2 linked regions of the Homo sapiens genome follow. The protein of the gene in region 2 purifies or fractionates together with the protein of the main gene of each other region. This does not show direct contact. Each region holds a gene or a part of one and is shown on either strand. Other genes may lie near its edges. The genes, in order: USP19 and FERD3L.

The links.
Region 1: the proteins of FERD3L (region 2) and USP19 purify together in Homo sapiens (affinity purification with mass spectrometry; 2 studies listed by BioGRID and IntAct, with this or other methods). This does not show direct contact.

The regions. Positions count from the first base shown.
Region 1 is NC_000003.12:49,110,740-49,120,678, forward strand, and holds part of USP19 (ubiquitin carboxyl-terminal hydrolase 19), read right to left. Parts: exon of another isoform or gene 9,729-9,939; intron 8,543-9,728; 5' UTR 8,407-8,542; coding exon 8,283-8,406; intron 7,382-8,282; coding exon 7,208-7,381; intron 7,092-7,207; coding exon 6,918-7,091; intron 6,832-6,917; coding exon 6,698-6,831; intron 6,623-6,697; coding exon 6,320-6,622; intron 6,205-6,319; coding exon 5,988-6,204; coding exon of another isoform or gene 5,982-5,987; intron 5,869-5,981; coding exon 5,712-5,868; intron 5,613-5,711; coding exon 5,541-5,612; intron 5,424-5,540; coding exon 5,308-5,423; intron 5,206-5,307; coding exon 4,985-5,205; intron 4,901-4,984; coding exon 4,705-4,900; intron 4,623-4,704; coding exon 4,489-4,622; intron 4,379-4,488; coding exon 4,220-4,378; intron 4,135-4,219; coding exon 4,024-4,134; intron 3,546-4,023; coding exon 3,435-3,545; intron 3,355-3,434; coding exon 3,253-3,354; intron 1,891-3,252; coding exon 1,750-1,890; intron 1,664-1,749; coding exon 1,545-1,663; intron 1,310-1,544; and 9 more. UniProt on the Homo sapiens protein: Deubiquitinating enzyme that regulates the degradation of various proteins by removing ubiquitin moieties, thereby preventing their proteasomal degradation. Stabilizes RNF123, which promotes CDKN1B degradation and contributes to cell proliferation.
Region 2 is NC_000007.14:19,142,309-19,152,289, forward strand, and holds FERD3L (fer3-like protein), read right to left. Parts: upstream 3,114-9,981; 5' UTR 3,055-3,113; coding exon 2,554-3,054; 3' UTR 2,474-2,553; downstream 1-2,473. UniProt on the Homo sapiens protein: Transcription factor that binds to the E-box and functions as inhibitor of transcription. DNA binding requires dimerization with an E protein. Inhibits transcription activation by ASCL1/MASH1 by sequestering E proteins.

The sequences.
Region 1 (9,939 bases), on a different chromosome or scaffold from region 2:
CTTGTCACGCCAGATAAAACTACGAAAGGAGAAGCGCTTGAGCTGCACGATGAGAACATTTGGCAGGCGCCATAGCAACAGCTGCTTGGAGGCCTCACGGTGCTGTTTGCACTGTGGGCAGTACCTGGTGGGGACAGAGATTGGGTCAGGACCAGCAAGTCTCTCTCTTCTCCATCCTGCCCCCTTATCTACTTGCTGCTCTGTTCTCACCAGGCCTCCTCGGGTGCCAGCACCTCAGGCCGTGTGAAGAGGTTGAGGCACTGGTCCAGGGTGAAGTGGCCGGCCCGGGCAGCCTCACCGGCAGAGCCTGGATCCTCAGCACATTCCAGCTCCTTGGAGGCTACCAACACAAACTCCTGCAAGCGCTCATTGTTCCGCCAGACGAGAGCCAGGCTACAGTCGTCACCCAGCTCCAGTGGGGTGTCTCCTGGAGATTCGCAGGGAGAGAGGTCATGCAGCTGTGGAGAACAGCCAGCTCAACCCACCCCATGGCTCCCACCCACAGCCTCAGACACCTTTGTCCTCTAGCCGCTGCTCTCGGTTGGATGAATCAATTTTATAGATGAAGAACTGGGGTGTGTGGGCATTCATAGCTTCACTTGGATGCTGGTACCCAGGCACAGCAGCTGTGTGAGAACATGATAATCAAAGCTTCCCTGCCCATCAGGGCCTCACCAGGCCCACCAGGCCCTAAACAACAGCCCCCTCCATCCTCCCTTATCCTCCTCCCCAGCTTCTAGAGCCTTTCACTGGATCTTACCTTCGGGTCGGGACACCCTCTCGCCAGCTGGCAAGGAGCCAACCTCAATGGGCCCACTGGCCAGCATCTCAGAAGAAATTCCACTGGTGCTGGGCACAGGACCCCGGTCAGGGGCTGCCCACACCCGGGGAAGCCCTGTGTCCCCCTCAGCCATAGGGGTCACCAGCTGGAGCTCAGGTGGCTGAATGGGGTCTCTCTCGCTGTCCCCAGCCTCCAGGGAACCTGTGGAGAGCAGTGTGGTGCAGCCAGGGCTCTGAGACTCCAAGGCCATGCGGCCTGGCTGAAAGGGTGGCTGGAATACACTCACAGAGTACCTGGCAACAGAGAACAACGCAAGTAAGACTCCTGACCAGCCCATCTAGCACCTCTGCCCCCACCTACACCACTCTAGTCCAACCACTGGGCACTTACCGGGCATAGCCCTCTAGCAACTGAGCGAGGCGGGCATAAGTGAGGCGTGAGGCAGGTACACTGACCAGGAAGGGGTAGCCAATGTTCTCAGGTCGGCAGAGGCCCTTGTGGTCAGGCCAGTGGGTTTTCTGGCAGAGCCTGACGGGAAGAGGAAGACAAGGATAGGCCCTTAGCCCCATCTCCTATGACTCCATACTGGGGGCTAGTCATAGTCCCTGGGAACTGGGTACGCCAGCCCTGCCTCCCCCAGAGCCTGGTAAAGTAGGGTGGCAAGTAGAAAGCTTAAGCATATGTGCCTTGGTGTGAAGGGAAGGAGCAGGGTGGCACATGGAAGGTGGAAAGAAAGGGTAGGGGAGACCATGGGGGTCCTCACTGGTTGCAGTAGCCCACACGGTAGCACCGGGTACAGCGCTTCAGCTTTTCATCCTCCGACTGTTGCTTCCGCTGGCAGGCTGCACACTTGGAGATGGGGACGCTGGGCACCTGGGGGCGCTAGGGTGGGTCGTCTGGCTCAGCAAGACCAGGAAGAAGTGCCCCACCCACCAGGGCGCTGTGCCATCAGGTTGGCCCCCACTCACCTGTTGCACCTCTAGCACCACTACCCGCTCCTTAGCCAACTCTGAGGATAGCAGCTCAAAGCAGAGGAGCGTATCAGATGGGGACACAGTGTCCAGTGAGTGGGAGGGTAGGAACACACGATGAAAACGATTCTTAATTACCTGGGGACAGAGAACACACAGATCCCACGTGAGGATAAGCCCTTTCCCTAGCCCTGCCCCAGAGTTTAAGAAGGCTTGGCCCTGCCTTGGGTCTATGTGGGCAGTGGTGAGGTCTGTAGGCCCAAATAGGCTTATGCCTCTGCTGGCACCTGTCTCAGTGCCCAATGCCATAAGGAGCCTGGTGCATCAGAGGGCCTGAAAGACCAGGTGTGAGGCAGATATCAACCACACCAGCTCTCCACACTGAGGGACTCTGCCCTGCTATAACTAGCATAGCCTTATAAGACTGTAACATATTATCATGGAGGGTCCACATTCAAAGAGCCTCCTCCCCACTCTTACCCCTAAGAAAACCAACACTGTCAGGCTAAAGGCTAGGAACCCCTGGGGAGAGCTAGCACACACAACTGGGATAAAAGGAGAGAGCAGCAGGATAGAGGGAGAGGCAGAGCGAACATAGGGATAGTCCTGCAGCTCAAGCTCCTTGTCTAAAAAGGGAAATGCAGTTGGGATCCACCACCACAAAGGGGAATAAACCCTGATAATGGCTAGGAACTGAGGGCACTTCTGTTGCACAGAAAAAATAACAGCACATCGCCTGTTTTTGTACAGTCACAGGCATACTCATGTGTATGTCTATTTTTATTTTATTTTATTTTATTTTTGAGACAGAGTCTCACTCTGTCACCCAGGCTGGAGTGCAGTGGCGCGATCTCGGCTCACTGCAACCTCTGCCTCCCAGGTTCAAGCGATTCTCCTGCCTCAGCCTCCTGAGCAGCTGGGACTACAGACATGTGCCACCACGCCCGGCTAACTTTTCCTGTATTTTTAGTAGAGGTGGGGTTTCACCATGTAAGCCAGGGTGGTCTGGATCTCCTGACCTTGTGATCCATCAGCCTTGGCCTCCCAAAGAGCTGGGATTACAGGCATGAGCCACCACGCCTGGCCCTATTTTTATTTTTTTATCTATTTATTTATTTATTTTTGAGACAGAGTCTCACTCTGTCACCCAGGCTGGAGTGCTGTGGTGCAATCTCTGCTCACTGCAACCTCCACATCCCGGGCTCAAGTGAGCCTCTTGCCTCAGCCTCCCAAGTAGCTGGGACTATAACACGTACCACCATGCCCAGCTAATTTTATTTCTTGTAGAGACAGTGTTTCACCAAGTTGCCCAGGCTGGTCCCAAACTCCTGGGCTCAAGTGATCTGCCCACCTCGGCCTCACAAAGTGCTGGGACTACAGGCATGAGCCACTGTGCCCAGCCCATGTGTATGTCTGTAGATGCCAATGACTGTACACACGTCTGTGGTGAGTACACACACACATCCACACATGTGATAGCCCAAGGAAGGACAAAGATACCTCCGCCAAACGCAGGTTCTCAGGCTTCACATGAACACTCTGAGAGAGGGAGTCCAATACTTCGCTCGCAGTGGAGTTCTCCTTGCTGACGCTCACCAGGAACTGTGGCAAAAAGGGCAGTCAGTGAGGGAGGTGGGCCACGTTCTCTAGAACAGCCCAGAGGGTAGGGGCTTACTCCTCACCTTGATGGGCTTGCTGTGGGGCTCTCGGGCAAAATAAAAGACAGGGAGAACCTTTTGCTTTTGTGGCAAGGGCACCGGCAGATAAAGAAACGGGTCAAAAGTGATGGAGACCTGTGGATGTAGAGGTGGCACTGGGTAGCTGCACACAGAGTGGGAGATAAGATGCTCATGCTCAGAGAGCCCATTCCGGGGCTTCTGATGGCTCTCAGGGCCCCCACAGCCAACCAGCAAACTCTCAGGCTTCAGGACACTAGACAGGGCAGGAGGACCACCAGGAAATAACAATCCTTCTTTCTGGCACTCAAAGCCCTACTCAGCTTAGCCACTTTACGAATTGGCCTCACACTTGCACCCCATGTGCCCACAACCCTGCTACAACACCTTTGAGCTCTAACATCACTTTTCCCTCAGTCAGGAAGCCTACCCTGAGTGGGCTCTTCAGCCCAAATAGAATCCTAAGGCCTCCCTGCCAGCTTCTTTGCCCAAACCTTGCCCTGTAGCACCTTAAGATGCACATGCCTCTGAACCTAATGTGACCAGAATAGCTGAGCTGAACTAGGGGGTCTCTTTCCAGGGGAGCCCATCACACCTTGGCACACACAGGGCACACCAGCTTCGACTTGTACTGCCCCTGAAATAGGTCCACGATGAAAGAGTCATTCCTCATCTTGTGCCGCTGCCATGCTTCCTCAGCTACCACCTGAGAGGCAGAGTGGTGAGAACCAAAGAGTACCAGGGGCTGGGATGCTCATGAGACATGCCCACCCTCTGTCCCTAACCCTGACCTCATCGGGCCGCCCATCTGAATCCACGGTCTCTGTGTAGGGCTTGTTCTGAATGCGATTCAGGTCCTCGTGCAGCCCATCCAGCAGGAAAGCCATGAACTCCTGGGCATCATGCTGTGCATAGCCTGTGAACTGGCTGGCCTTACTCGCCACAATGGCCTGGATACAGGAGCCAAGGTGTGAACATGAAGCCCTAGCACCCACTGCACACCCAGCTGGCTGGCCCTCCCCGCCCCCTCCAGCCAAGGGTGACAGTGGTCACAGATCACCTTCAACTTGGAAGGCTGGAAGGCATGGTGGGTGCCCTTCCACAGCGCCCGAAGCAGCACGGCAAAGCCAATGGCCAGACGCCCACCAGTCCCTAGTGGGTTGTTGTAGTTGATCTCAGCCTCAAAGGAGCGGTCTAGGAATAGTAGCCGAGCAAAGGTGTGAGGAACAAAGGCACTCTCTCTGCCCATAACCCAGGCTCCAGGCCCTGCCCTCACCATGGAAGAAGTCCCGGAGTTCCCGAGTGTTGGACAGAGACTGAATGACGCTGTTCATGAAGCAGGTGTTGCCTAAATTGACAAGGCCAGTGAAGCCTGGCAGACACACCTTCTTCTCTTCCTCTTCCTCCTCCTCCACGCTGTCTCCACTAACTGGGCTGTGGGGCATGGGAGGCACCATGCATGTAGGCTTGGGCTGCAGGAGCAAAGACGACATGAGAGAACAGCCCCAAGACTCTCCAGCCTCCATTCTTCGTCCTTCCCACCCCAGAATTCTCACCGAGGCCAGGTGTGTCTCTGGCTTTGGGGTTACATGCTCCATGGGTGTGCGGGTTGCCACACTGTCTAGCCCTGTGTCCTCAGATCGTGCCTTGGATTTATCCTTCTCCACAGCCCGGGCCTCCTCCTGGCCTGTCAGGGGGTGGGGAGCACCTCCTGGTGGGGTTGAATCCAGAGGGGTTGGACCTGTCGGCACGGCAACCTTTGCACCACCCACTGCACCTTAAAAAGGGGGAATGAGAGGGCTGGTGGTTAGCAGCATGTGACAGGGGTTTGGGTCCTGGTCACGTGGAACTGGGCAATGAAGGGAGCTCGTGTGCAGACCTCGTGCAGCCGGGGCCTCCAGGCCCCCCCAGCGCTGACTCTGCCTCTTACGAAGGCAGATGTCGATGCGAGAAGCCGTGAAACAGAAGGTGCACTGCTCTGGCTCAATCAGATTCCTGTGGGAAAAGGCTGAACTCAGGGACTTAGGAGGAATGAGCATCAGGATAGATGAGCCAGGGAGATGGAGCCCACGGGGTAGGACAGGCACAGTGGTGGGGCCGGGCACCACCCACCTGAGCTTCACCTGCCAACGGAAGGTGGTGTGGGGCCCACAGCCCGGGTGCAGCCTCAGGAAGTTTCCATCCCTGCAGAGGCACAGCAGGATAGGAGGAAGGACAAGAGGAAGAGCATGAGACATACTGTCCCACCTGAGGCATTGTTTGCCCCATCATCTACCCACCCACCTGGTCTGGAAGATGAGCGTGAAGTCCTGCTCACGGAAAAGTACTCTTGAGGTGTCCCTGCAGATCTCCTTCACGTACACGTGCACCACCACTGAATCCGGGCCCTTCTCATACGAGTCATTCTTGACAAACGCCAGGTTCACCATCGACTCGGGCTCTATATTGAGACCATGGCTCAGCCCCAACCAGGACAGGTTCCAGCCTATTGCTACTCTCTATCCACCTACAAACTTTGCAACCCAACCTAGGGCTCTGCCTGCCCACCCCCACCTTTACCATCCACCAAGGTTGCAGCATCTGCTGCCACTGCCATCTCCTCCTTGGCACAGTCATCTTTCCCAGGGTTTCTGCTCCGGACCATGGCTGGAGAGACTGGGTCATTCCCGGGAGGCACTGCTTTCTCTCCTGCCAAAGGGGCTAAATTCTCCTCTGAGCCCAGGAGGCAGGTTTGGGAGTTCAGCGGTGGTATGCAAAGCTGTTCATCAGCCTCAACCTATTAATGGCAAGATTGTGGAAAGAATCAGCCCTGGGTCTGCCAGGTGGCTCCCACTCCAGTGCACACCCTTTCCCCCCATCTCCTAACACCCAAACAGGTGCCCAGCTCTCACCTGGGTGGCTGGGTCAGCCACGAAGGGTGGGGCATCACCCCGGGGTCCAGGGTCATCCCTGGACCCGTCCCCCTCTGGCCCTCTGCAGAGATGCACAGCCCTCTTGGCGCTGGGCCCTGCCTGGGCCCCGGGGCCAGCCCCTGCGCCTACCTCACCACGGCCCTGGGCCCGCTTCTGGTTCCGGGCCTCCTGCTTAGCCCGGTGGGGCTCAGGGCCTGGCTCCAGGGCAATGGGAGACAGTTCCTGCCCATTCTCCTGGCACCGCAGCCCCGGCACCAGCTCCTGGGTCCCTAGAGGTTTCTTCTGCCAAAGATACAGCAGTCAGGCCCTGTCGACTACACTGGTATCCCTACCCAACCCTGTACTACTAGAACTCACCAGGAGGGAGGGCCACGTGAGCATAGGCACCTTTTTGGGCAGTGTCAGGTGCAGGAGACTGCCCTTGCGGGTTTGCACTTTAGCACAAGAGCTTTTTATCTCAGCATAGAAGACACCACCCCACTGCTGACCACCTGGGGACAGAGCAGGGTCCATGAGGTAGGATAGGAGATATCAGAAGATTCAAACATACTACTGTGCTCAGGGCAGATGGACACACCTGCAAACCGCACCACACAGTCTGTATCTGTGAAAGCAGCATCTACATCCTCCAGCTGCAGGGGACCTACTCCCACACGAAGCTTGACAATCACCTCTTCTGCACTCTGCCTCCAATCGAGCAACAACTCTGGAGTGGGAGTAGCCAAGAGATCATGAGGGTCTTCACAAGCTCCTGATGGTGATAAGCAGGTAACAGAGACCCAGCCTAATGAAACTGCTTCAGATGGGAGCCAAATTGCAAGTGCCCCCTCCCCTTCCCTAGCAACAAAAAGCCCATTCGTTACTGACCCTCTTTGGTCTGCTCCTCTTGAGGAGTGGATGCTGACCCTGACGATGAAGGAAAGAACAGCCGGGTACGGTGGCGTGAGCCTGTGATCCCAGCTGCATGGGAGGCTGAGGCAGAAGGATCACCTGAGGCCAGAGGTTCAAGACCAGCCTGGGCAACATATCGAGACCCTGTCTCTAAAAAAAAAATAAGAAAAATTAGTCAAGCATGGTGAGGAGGCTGAGGTAGGAGGACTGCTTGAGCCCAGGACTTTGAGGATGCAGTAAGCTACGATCACACCTGCACTGCACTCCAATCTGTGCAAGAGTGAGACCCTGCCTTTAAAAAAAAAAAAAAAAAAGGGACAGGCACGGTGGTTCACGCCTGCAATCCCAGCACTTTGAGAGGCCGAGGTGGGTGGATCACCTGAGGTCAGGAGTTTGTGACCAGTCTGGCCAACATGGTGAAACCCCGTCTCTACTAAAAATACAAAAATTAGCTGAGTGTGGTGGTGCATACCTGTAATCCCAGCTACTTGGGAGGCTGAGGCTACTTGGGAGGCTGAGGCAGCAGAATCACTTGAACCCGGGAGGCAGAGCCCGCAGTGAGCCAAGACGCCACTACACTCTAGCCTGGATGACAGAGTGAGACATTGTCTCAAAAAAAAAAAAAAAATTAGCCTTGCGTGGTGGCATGCACCTGTAATCCCAGCTACTTGGGAGGCTGAGGCAGGACAATCACCTGAACCAGGAGGTGGACGTTGCAGTGAGCCAATATTGCACCACTGCACTCCAGCCTGGGCTACAGAATGAGACTCCATCTCAAAAAAAAAAGGAAAAAAAGAACAGGTTCAAAAAAAAGAAAAAAGTTTAAAAAGGAAAGAAGGCAAGCCCCCCAACAGCACCATCTTCTGGATCTTAGCCAAGTACTCAGGCTTCAAAGCTGAGGCTCTACTGAGGTTATCATGGGTCCTTCTTCTCTCATCATCAAACCAGGACAGAGAGAAGAACAAGAAAGTCATCTCCCAAACCCCAATCTGTATACCAATAAGATGGGAGGCAGAGAAGGCCACAATTACTCTGGGAATGCCACTCCCACCTTTCCTAGGATCTCCATCCTTGCTCTCCTGGTTTGCTCGATCCTTCTGCTTCTTCTTACTAGTGGTGTCCTCCAGTCCTGGGGGCCCTCTCCTTGGGCCTGTGGCACTGGCCCCGCCAGACATCTTGAGCCGCTTGGTCGACAGCCAGAGTGCCCCGGGGTCGGCAACAGCGTCTGGGTCAGGGCTGCGGCGCTTTCTTCCTGGCCCAGCTATCTTGGCAACTCTTTGTGGCCAAATTCTCCAGCAAGGAACGGACAGCCTAATGGAAAGAAGCCAGTGATCACTGCCAAGACCCAACAACTTGCTCTTTAGCTACACCCAGGGCTCAGCAACACAGGACACTAATGCTACAGAGCTGTATCTTCTCATCTCTTAAGTACCCCTGGACACTCTCAGGATATTCTGAAGAGGTAATAAATAATGCAAGTAGCAGCAACCACTTCTGGCCAAGCCTCATAGATACCCACCATAACAGTCCCACACAGGTGAAAGCCTCACTGAGGGGGCACCAGGTCAAGGAAGTCATGGCCTGGGACCAGGCTACTCCACCAATCTGGAGAGGAGCCACGGCTCCAGCCCACAGGGCTGGCACTCCGAGCAGGGTGCTCACTTTTCCTTCACTCTCACTGGCTGCTTAGTCACCACTGGAGAAATAGAAGGTGGAGGAGGAAGGCAGGACAGGAGACAAGCCGCAGGAGAACCAGGCTCTGTGGCTGTAAACAGGCTCAACCCAGGTTCTACCATTGCCCAGAAAAAGTCCTGGGGCTAAGGCACTCCACCTGCCTCCTGCCAGCTCCCACCCTTGGCAAGAACCTGCTCCTATGTACTGCTTGGTCCTTCTTCATTTCAAGAGAAAGTCCTCTCCCCAGCTGCTGTCCCAAGCAGAAAGGGACTGAAAAGTGTATCTAGATGTCACGCTACCTCTTCAGCAGCAACCCTGCTCCAGTACTAAGGCAGGATGGGCATCCAGTTTGAGACTGGAACAGAAATTATCACCTTCCTTCCCAGATGCCTTCACTCATGAGCTCTGAGCCACAAGGACCACTACAGTTTCCCACAGACCCACCAGTGGATTCTGGACTGTTTCCTCCTCCAAAATGAAGGTCTTGAAACTAGATACTGAGATGAGGCTGGGGAGGACCACAGATCCAGGACTCCTGGCAGCCTCAAGCCTGGCCTGAACCAGTAGCAGGACAGATAATGACTAGTCTGTGTTCCCCTAAGTGTGTAAAGGAGGAAGGAGGGATGGCAGGATACCCTTCTACAGGTCAGATGTGGTACTGGTGGGCTGGATCTTTAATGACACCTGCCACCGGCGCCTCCTTCTTGCACCCAGGCCCCAGCCGAAGGTCGCGTCCCTCCCCCATGCCCCAGGGACGTCGAGGCGGGTAAGGGGCTGTTTAGAGACCCGAGCCGGCCTGAAATGGCAGCGCGGGGTTACTGACCACAGATCAGCGCCCCGGTCGAGCTGCGACCCAGCTTCAGCCTCTGAACCCCGAGCCCGCCACCACCTCTCCCACGAAGTTGCCCTCGCTGGCCGCCAGTCCTCTCCCAGGTGGGAGGCTGGCCACAGGCATAGCGTAACGGCCCTGCCGGCATCAGTGGGCTGGCACGCTGCGGGGCACTAGGGGTAGGGACTGGCACGGCCCGTGACCT
Region 2 (9,981 bases):
TGATGAAGAGGTATTCACTGGAGGAATATTATTTGCTTTCTAGGAACAAAATGTATTAGAATATGATGGAGAAGACTAACGAAAACGGGTGGCTGTGCTGACTCCTCACGACTTAGGAATGTTGATGGTCCCTGGTCTACACAATTTTGCTTTATTTCTGGTTTTCAAAACTTGTTCTTTCAGCAAAATATTAAGAATTCCTAGATTGGAATTACTTTTTTTTCTTTTTATTTATTCAACACTTTCAGATGATTTTTTAAAAAAGAATGATGTTTAATTTCCAGGAGAAATTGAATTGGTGGAAGAATAAGAAAAAACAACACTCTATGGGGCTTTGTTGTTGTTTGGTGTTAGCTGTTTATGTATTTTTTTTTTGTTTACCTGTTTATCCTGATGTTCTTACGGTGCAGTTGAAAAAATTCTTGGTGGAAAGACACAGTAAAAGTAAAAAAACATCTTGGGAGTGGGGGCTCGTTTCAGAACTAATCCAGGTCCTATGAAAAGGAAAACTAAGAAAAGTTTTAAATATTCGAAGTACTAATGAAGGGGCTGGGAAACAGGCAAATCCCTGCAATGCTAGAGGGTGGGAGAGTGAACTGGCAGAACCCACCAAGAAGGGAATCTGGCCATTTATATCCACAAACTTGAATCCAGAAATTTCACTTCTAGGTATCAAATGTTAGGAAGTAATAATAGACAGAGAAGGCATTTACAAGAATGCTCTTAGCAGCATCATTTATTTTTTAAAAAGGAAATAGCTATCTATCTGGAAAGGGCTGGTGGTGGTGTGATACATGGATAAGACAATAAGATATGGTAATCAAAATCACATTTGAATAATATTAAAGTTAAGGGAAAACATTGCACCTTCTATAATGCCAAGTGGAAAAATATCAGTATCCCAAAGTATCTCGAATTAGTAAAATATATTGAATTTATAACTGCACAGGGAAAAAAAGACTGGAAAGAAATAGATGAAAATGCTAACAGTATGGTAACGTGGAGTGATTCGAATTTTCTCTTTTTTGAAATTTTTTTTTCCAAAATTTCTAGGATGAGTATATGTTACTTATTAATGAAATGAATTCTATTTCCGAAAGCATGATTAAGAGAATTGTGTGTTCGCACAGGCTCCCGCCTATTTCTGTGTGCAATGAGGGGCGAAATAAAGTGTTGGAATAATCACTGGGGATTATCCTTTAGGATTACTGAATTTATGTTTAGGTTGGCATTATTCAATCGGGTTCCTCGCCTCAGTTACCCACTCCTTTCTGAAAGACCCCAGTTCTGGTACTAGCACGTCACCTAGAAGGAAGAATCCTGGAATGGCACGGGTCCAAACTAGAGGCGGCCTCTCAGCATGGACCCGCTTCAACCTCATCTGCATGGCAGGCGTTTTGCAAGGCGTCAGAAGGCATCTCCTCTTTGGACTTTTTGTCTCCCCTGGTAGTCTCTAGAAGCCATTAGAGTGAAAGCTATCTTTCCTACCTACAGCTAAAAATGTAAAAGTGAGCGCGCTCAGGCGGCCCTGCTCCTAGAAAGATCCAGGCCCCTTCATACCCCAACCCCTGGCCGGGGACAGTTGGTAGCGGTGGCTGGTGGCGAAGCTGCAGGGCGCCCAAGGCCCCCTGCGGCCCAGGAGTGACCCGAGTGCACTCGCCCCTTACTCTGGCCTGGGGCCTGAAGAAGGCACTGGAACACGGAAGCTGATGCTGCACTTTAGATGCAAAGCGTAGATTTGCACTCTGGCTAAGGCACTGAATGAACACCACTGTGGCCCTGGGACAAGGAGCTGTGGTCCGTCTGGGATCAACTAGGTGGCGAAGGGGAGGGAGAAAGGAAGAGAGAGGGCTTGCGCGCGGGAGAGAGGAAGGGACGGGAGGGAGAGGGAATGGAAGACAGGAAGGGTGTCCCTTCTCAGAGGTCGCACTTTGTCAGCAGTTCCTCTCGACTGCTCTGCCTTCCATTTTTCCTTTCCTCAGTTCCTGGACAAGCCTCGGAGGACCAGGCAGAACCCTCTGGCTAGCAGAAAAGCTCGCACCCCCGCACCCTTGCGGCGTCTGCTTCAGACCCTCCACGCAGGCGCCCGCTGGAGCGCCTGCTGGGGATGGCGTACCACCGACCCTTCAGGCTTTTTAAAAACGTAAGAATTTCTACTTTATTATCTCTATGAAAAAAAAAATGTAAAGAAGAGAGGTTAGATTTTATAGAAGCTCCAAAGTCTGCCATTTGCGAGGAGGGTTCACTTCCCACCCACCCAGCCCACGGAAGCTCTTAGGAGCAGCCTGAACGGCCCCGACTCAGCCTCACGCTCTCTGACTTCCCCGCTCGCCCCTGACCCCGACTTCACTTAGGGCGGTCGCGTAGATATGAACTCTACAGCAGCCACTCTGCTCAGCGCATGTGGGGATCTTACAATCTCGACCCCGACCTCCAGAAGACCAGACGTTCTGTCTTGGGGCCTCCCTCCCGGCCCTTTAGCCTCACCCAGTGCCCGGTCCTGACACACCCCAGCACTACCAGACGAGGAAGGGCAGACTCTCCACACCAGGCTCAGCCGCTTTCCTTCTTCTCACAGCTCTCCAAGAGCTCGGTCATGAAGGAGATATAGACGATGGCCAGGCGGAGGGTCTCGATCCGGGACAGCCTTTTCTCGTAAGCAAACGTGGGCACCTTCCTCCGCAGCTGGTCAAAGGCCTCGTTGAGGTTGAACATCCGCTTCCTTTCGCGGATGTTGGCGGCCTGGCGCTGGGCGTAGGTGATCACCCTTTTCCTCTTGGGGCGGCCTAATAGGGAGACACCTCTTCCGCGCTCCTCTTCCTCCTCCTCTTCTCCGTCCCCCTGGTCCACTTCGCACTCCTCTTCTTCTGGGTCCCCCTCTTCAAACCGCGCCATCCTCCTGGGTCTTCCCTCTCGGAGCGCAAGGGCTGGGTCCCCCAAGGAGACCCCGGGTGCGAAGTCGCAGAGGAGAGGGCGTCTCGGGGAGGCCAGGGACAGGTCTGCGACGAAGTCCAGCACCGTAGTGTCCACGCAGCTCTCCGGATAGGCCGCCATCGCTTCGGCTTGGCCCTGCCTCTCATCGGTTTTCCGCAGGGAGGGGCGAGGTTGCTGGTGGGGATTCTTAACAGCCTTGAATCTGATGGGGCACCATCACCGAAAGGCCAGGGAACATTAAATATTTATAACCAAGCTGATAACAGGATTAGTCGCACCGATAAGGAATGCTCTGACAACGTCCCTTCTCTCGAAGCTTATGGAAGATGACAAGCTTGAGCACGCATGGAAGACTCAAAGGGACAGGGCTCCAGTTCTGAGATCCTTTTCTCTGCGCCACCCGGGACAGTTCCTTGTTGGCAACAACCCCCAGCTCTTACCTGCTGTGCTTTTTGTGTCTGTCTTCACCCCTGCAGCCAACTAATGTTCTCCAGGCTCCTTATCTCGTGTAGTTCTTTAATTTCGTGTTGGATTTTCAAAGCGAGGATGTTTTCCACCGCGATGGCTTCTCCTTGACTTCAGGGTAGGAGTCTTGAATCTTGCCACCATCTGCCAATGGATGTGGAGCAAGTGCATGTGCTTTTAATGATGTCCTGAAGAGGGGCCCTGCCTGCCTGGCATCAAGGGGAGCTGTTTGTCTGGTATCCCAGTGCAGCGGCTGCTGAAAGGCAAGACCTTCAATTAGCTTAAGTAAGCATGGCAGGGGGACCGAGAGTGCATTCCCCAGAGTCGCTGTTGGAACCGGCTTTCTTTTCTTTCCAGGGCATCGCAAACAGCTCTCCTGCCACGTTACAAACCCTGACTTCTAAAGTCTGTTTGGATGCAATCAGCGTAACAATTGAGATACTTGACTTTCCTTTCCCTACCTTTACCTCCTACTCATATAAAATAGAGGATTTTATTCCAAGAGGAAAAGTTATGATGGCAATAAAATGAGAAATTTAAGCTCAGGATATTTTCTATGCTCGGGCTTTGCTGTATACTTTTCAGTGTGGGGGACAAAGCAAACTCTCCTCACAAACAAAACCACTTCAAGCTCTTTTCAGAAATGCGATTTGCCCTTGATAAGCCAAAGAGTCAATCAGCTCACCCTCTGCTGAGGAGTCTTCGGACTTTTAAATTGCGGATCGAGTATTTGTTCCCGAACAAAGAAAAAAACCTAACACTTCCATCTGGCGTATTTTCCTCATTGATTTGTATTGTCCTACAGTAAGACTTAAGTGCAGAAACAATGATTTATTGAAATATATTTAAGGGAGTTTTTGGCTATCGTTAGATCGTTATTTTTGAGAAAAGAAAGAGATTTTAAATTTGGCATAAGAAAAATAAGAGATTACTCATTTTATATTATCTCGAGTATCCCAAATATTTTAACAAAAAGGTTCTTTTTCTTTGTTTGCCAATAACTATATTTACTTAATTATTCAGTACTGTGTAAAGATTTATTTAAAAGACCCATTGTGTCAAAGTGACAGATTAGAAGATAATTTTAAAGGTAGATTGGAAGAAATAGCCTAAAAAGATGAATGTAGAAACATCCCGGTTCAAAAGAGAACTGCCCAGGACGTCAGTCCCTATTAAGGGGGTAAGTTGTGGTTATGATGGTTCACTCAGTACATTGGACAGCTCCCAGAAACCAGAAACCGCCTATTTCTAACAGGTAATCTCAATTCATTTTCTTCTTCCTAGCCTCTATGTGTGTAATCAAAACAGTATAACCTTTAATTCTTCTTCTTCTTTTAACCCATTTGTGTCTGGTGTCTCTCGATCTTTTAATAGATTTTATCTTCTTTTGCTTGTGTTTACTCTTCATTCTCCAGTTTGAATTGTGATAACTCAGGCAGAGAATAATTGAAATTTGTGATCCTGGAAGATGTTAAAGAGAATGAGATCTTTGGTTGTTACTTAGTTGATTTTTGCTAAGCATCTTTCAAAGGGAAGGCTGAAAAATAAATAATAGGATTGTCAACAGTGGCTATGAAGCTAGTAAATGGGAGAACTGATTTTTGTTTCAAAAAAGTAGTAACATGCTTGCTAACCCTCGTTTAAATTAATATGTTATTAAATATTTGGACAAATTTCTTGTTGATTTTTAAATTATGTTAAATGCTTCTCAGTGACTTATTTTGTATTCATTTACAATCTATTTGCAAGTGGATTAAACACCTCAGTCAATTGAGAATCTAGTTTCGCAATATAATACACTGGAAAACAATGAAGGAAAACATGGTTGATATTTAAATTTAAAATTTCATAAAATGGGGGTCAGAAGCCTTCATGAGACTAAAGAGATAGTTTCATTGGACTGAACTCCTTTATGATTTTAGCCAAGGCAATGTACCTTTCTTGCTTGCCTTCCTTCCTTCCTTCCTTCCTTCTTTCTTTCCTTCCTTCCTCTCTCCCTCCCTCCCCCTTACTCCTTTTTCTTTCTTTCTTTCTTTCTTTCTTTCTTTCTTTCTTTCTTTCTTTCTTTCTTTCTTTCTTTCTTTCTTTTTCTTTCTTTCTTCTTTCTTTCTCTTTCTTTCTTTCTTTCTTCTTTCTCTCTTTCTTTCTTTCTTTCTTTTTCTTTCCTCCTTCTCTCTTTCAACAGAGCCTCACTCAGTCATCGAGGCTGGAGCGCAGTGCTACAATCATAGCTTACTGTGCCTCAAACTCCTGGGCCCAAGCAACTCTCCTGCCTCAGCCTCCCGAGTACCTAGGACTGCAGGCACTGGCCACCTCATCAAGCTAAAGGTTTTGTTCTTTAGAGAGGAGGTCTAACTATTTTGCTCAGGCCTCAACCAGTCCTCTCACCTTGACCTCCCAAAGTGCTGAGATTACTGGCCTGAGCCACTGCAGCTGGCAGAGAATGGAGATTTCAATAATCATATCACAAAAGGAACTGTAGCAAAAGTAATGGAACCAGTGCCTAGAACTGGGTTGAAATACTTGTATTAAAGTATTAGGAATTTTTTAAATGTCCTAATAGGTACACCTACAGCAATTATTTTAAAATATTTTCTTTTTTATTTCATCATAAAAATCCCAGGATAAACACTTCTGTTTATACCACCTTAATTTCTGTTTATCTTACAAGGTTATAATCATGCTAATATAATTAAAGCAAAAAATGTTAAAATCTAAGTTATGAGTGTTTTTATTTATAATTATAATTAGTTATATAAATTAACAGTTACAGTTATTTCATTTATAATTATAATTAATTATAGGAATAACTGAAATTCTTTTTCTCTGCTTATTGTGAAATGGTCATTTTATTTTTAGAAGACTTTTGTGGGTATTTGGTTCCACAGTAAATATATATGGCAAAAGCAGTAAATTTATAAAGTACCAAGTGATGTTACAGTTCATCCTATTGGAAGGAATCATTATTTTCATTTCTAGATTTGAAAGTTAAGAGAGAGATGTTTTTTAAAAACTCAATTGAGGATTAAAAGAAGCTAAGTTCAACCTTGATTCCTCTGTGTTCTAGGCCTATAGTTTACAGTTATTCAGTGACCTATAGGGAGGCATTTATAAAAAGTTTGATAACTCCTCACAAATTTTACTCAAAATATTTCAAGAAATGATTATGAAATGACAATCAGTTTTGCTTATTTGATTATCTAGTTTATTTCTATTGACCATTCCTATTAGACATAAAACATTTTGTTTATACTATTAAACTGTTCAGAATCAAAGCAAAAAGAAAAAAAAATGACCAAGAATAACTTAAGCAGTAATTCTTGAATGAGCTGAAGCCTGGGTTTAATGGTGCAAAGGGGAGAAAGGTAGATAAATAAAGCATCCAGGGAGTAAAGCAAATATATAAATCCCCCCAATTAAAAAAACCCTACCTTTCCTTCCTCATGTCCCTTCCTCTTTTATTCCAGAAACATTAACTTTTAGGGCAAATGATAAAGATATGACGAAGCTAGATGTCTGTGATGATTGTAGGAGAAAGGCATAAGAAGTACTCCTTCCGCTGACCTGGAGAAGGGACCAGTGTCTTCTTCCTATTCAATTTCAAATTATGTATGGTTGTGACCACGGCTGGTTTTAGAGATAGAAGAATATATATCCATTTATTTTGCTTTTTTCATTTCATATTTTAGGTAAACTTTTTTGAAGCTCAGTGTATGTACTTTAAAATTCGCAAATTATATACATGCAGCTTCATGAATTTTCAAAGTGAATGTATCCATGAAACCAGTGCCCAAATCAAGAAATGGAATGCCTTTTTGAAGTTTGAGGTAATGTAAGAACAGTTAAGTTTATAGCTTGAGACTGTTTCACAAAGTGAGCATATGCATAATCTATAAAAATAAATTATATTCTGTATACTATTGTGTCTTTCAGTCAATATTTTATTTATGCAATTTGTGCATATTCTCATTGTTGAATAATATTTCACTGTGTAAATATACCACTATTTATTTGTTCTTTCCTTTTCTTGTTGGTGGACATTTGGATAGTTTCCAATTTTTAGTTACTACAAATAGCAGTGTCATAGAGGTTATTGTACATATCTTTTTGTGAGTACATTTATCCTTTCCTGTTTGGGATACACCTGGAATTGGAATAGATTATGCATATGTTCAGTTTTAGTGGTTACTATAAAATTGTTTTCCAAAATGGTTGTAATAATTTACACTGTCACAAATGATATATTGGAGTTCCAATTTCTTCACATCCTCGCCAATACTTGCCATTTTCTATCTTTTTAATTTAAGCTGTTTTAAAGATGTGTATGGGTATCACATTTCAGTTTTAATTTACATTTCCCTGATGATAAGTAAAATTGAGCACCATTTCTTGTTAGCCGATTAGTTACTGACTCTTTAATAAAGTACTGCTCCACTGTTTATTGGATTTTTCTAATTTAAAAAATTGATTTGTACGAATATTCTGGGTATAAGTTCCATGTCAGACGTATGTAATGTAAATATCTTCTCCCAACTCTGTGGCTTTCCTTTTGACTCTCTTTATGGTATATTTAAAAATTTCAGGCCGGGCGCGGTGGCTCACGCCTGTAAACCGAGCACTTTGGGAGGCCGAGGCGGGCGGATCACGAGGTCAGGGATCGAGACCATCCTGGCTAACACGGTGAAACTCCGTCTCTACTAAAAATACAAAAAAATTAGCCTGGCATGGTAGCGGGCGCCTGTAGTCCCAGCTACTCGTGAGGCTGAGGCAGGAGAATGGCGTGAACCTGGGAGGCGGAGCTTGCAGTGAGCCGAGATCACACCACTGCACACCAGTCTAGGTGAGAGTGAGACTCCGTCTCAAAAAAAAGAAAAAATTCATTTATATTTTTTCCAATTTTTATGGCGGTAAAATACATATAACATAAAATTTATCACTTTACCTATTTGTAAGTGTACAGTTCGGTGGTATTAAATACATTCATCATATTGTGCATCACCATCATCCATCTCAAGAACTCTTTTAATTTTATAAAATGAAAACTCCATATTCATTAAAAAAGTAACTCCTCGTTCTCTCCTTTCCTCAGCCCCTGGCAACCACCATTCTACTTTCCGTCTCTTTAAATTTGACTACTCTGGGTAGCTCATACAAGTGGAATTATACAGTATTTGTCTTTTTGTGACTGGCTTATTTCACTTAGCATAATGTCCTAAAGAGCCATCTATATTTTAACACACATTAGAATTTCCTTTCTTTTTAGGGTTGAATGATATTCCACTGTATGTATATGCCACACTTTGTTTATCCATTCCTCTGATGATGGACACTTGGGTTGCTTCCAGATTTTAGTTATTGTGAATAATGCTGCTATAAACATGGATATCTACAAATCATTTTGAGACCCTGCTTTCAATTTTTTTGGATGTGTCCCCAGAAGTGGAATTGCTAATAATTTGGTAACTCTGTTTTTAATTTTAAAAATAATTTTGTATTCTTTAACCAACCTCTTTCTATCCTCCCTTCCCACTACCCTTCCAAGACTCTGAAAACCCACAATTCCATTATCTGCTTCATGAGCTCCACATTTTTGGCACCTACATGTGAATAAGACCATGTGGTATTTTTCTGTGCCTGATTTATTTCATTTAACATAATGTCCTTCAGGCTCATTTGTGCTGCTGTCTAGTTTTAATTTTTTGAGGAACCACTGAACTGTTTTTCACAGTGGCTCTACCATTTTACATTCCCACCAACACTGTGCAAAGGCTCCCGTTACTCCATATCCTCACCAACACTTGTTTTATGTTTGTTTGTTTAGATAGTAGCCACCTTTATGGGTGTGAGTTTGTATCCTATTACAGCTTTGATTTGCTTTTCCCTAATGATTAGTGATGTTGAGGATCTTTTTATATGCCTGTTGGCTATTTGTATATCTTTTTTTTGAGAAATGTCTCTTCAGGTCTTCCACTCATTTTTGAATTGGGTTGTGTCTTTTTTTTCCAAGAACTTTACTGGATAAAAATTTTCTATGACTCATTCTATGTGTTATACATTTTGAAACCTTGTATACATCTGAAAAGTATTCTGAGAAAAATAATAATTGTTTCTTTATGTATATGTAAGTGAAAATGTTCTCTATATATCCTGGATATCAATCTTTTATCAGATACATGATTTGCAAATACTTTTCTCACTCTATAAGTTGTCTTTTTACTCTATTAATGGTGTCTTTTGATGCGCAAAAGTTTTACATTTTCATGAAGTCCAATTTGTCTATATTTTCTTTTTGCTTGGGCCTTTGGTATCATATCTAAGAAATCACTGCCAAATCCTATGTTGTAAATCTTTTTCTTTTTTTCTAAGAGATTTTAGTTTTAGGCCTTATGTTCTTATGTTTAGGTCCTTGATCCGTTTCAACTTAGTTTTTGTATATGGTGTTAGGTAAGGGTCCAGCTTCATTCTTTTACATGAGGATATTCAGTTTTCCTGATGCCGTTTGTTAAAAAACAAAAACAAAAAAGTATCTTTTCTCTATTGAATGATCTTGGTATCCTTGTCAAAAATCATTTGACCATATAT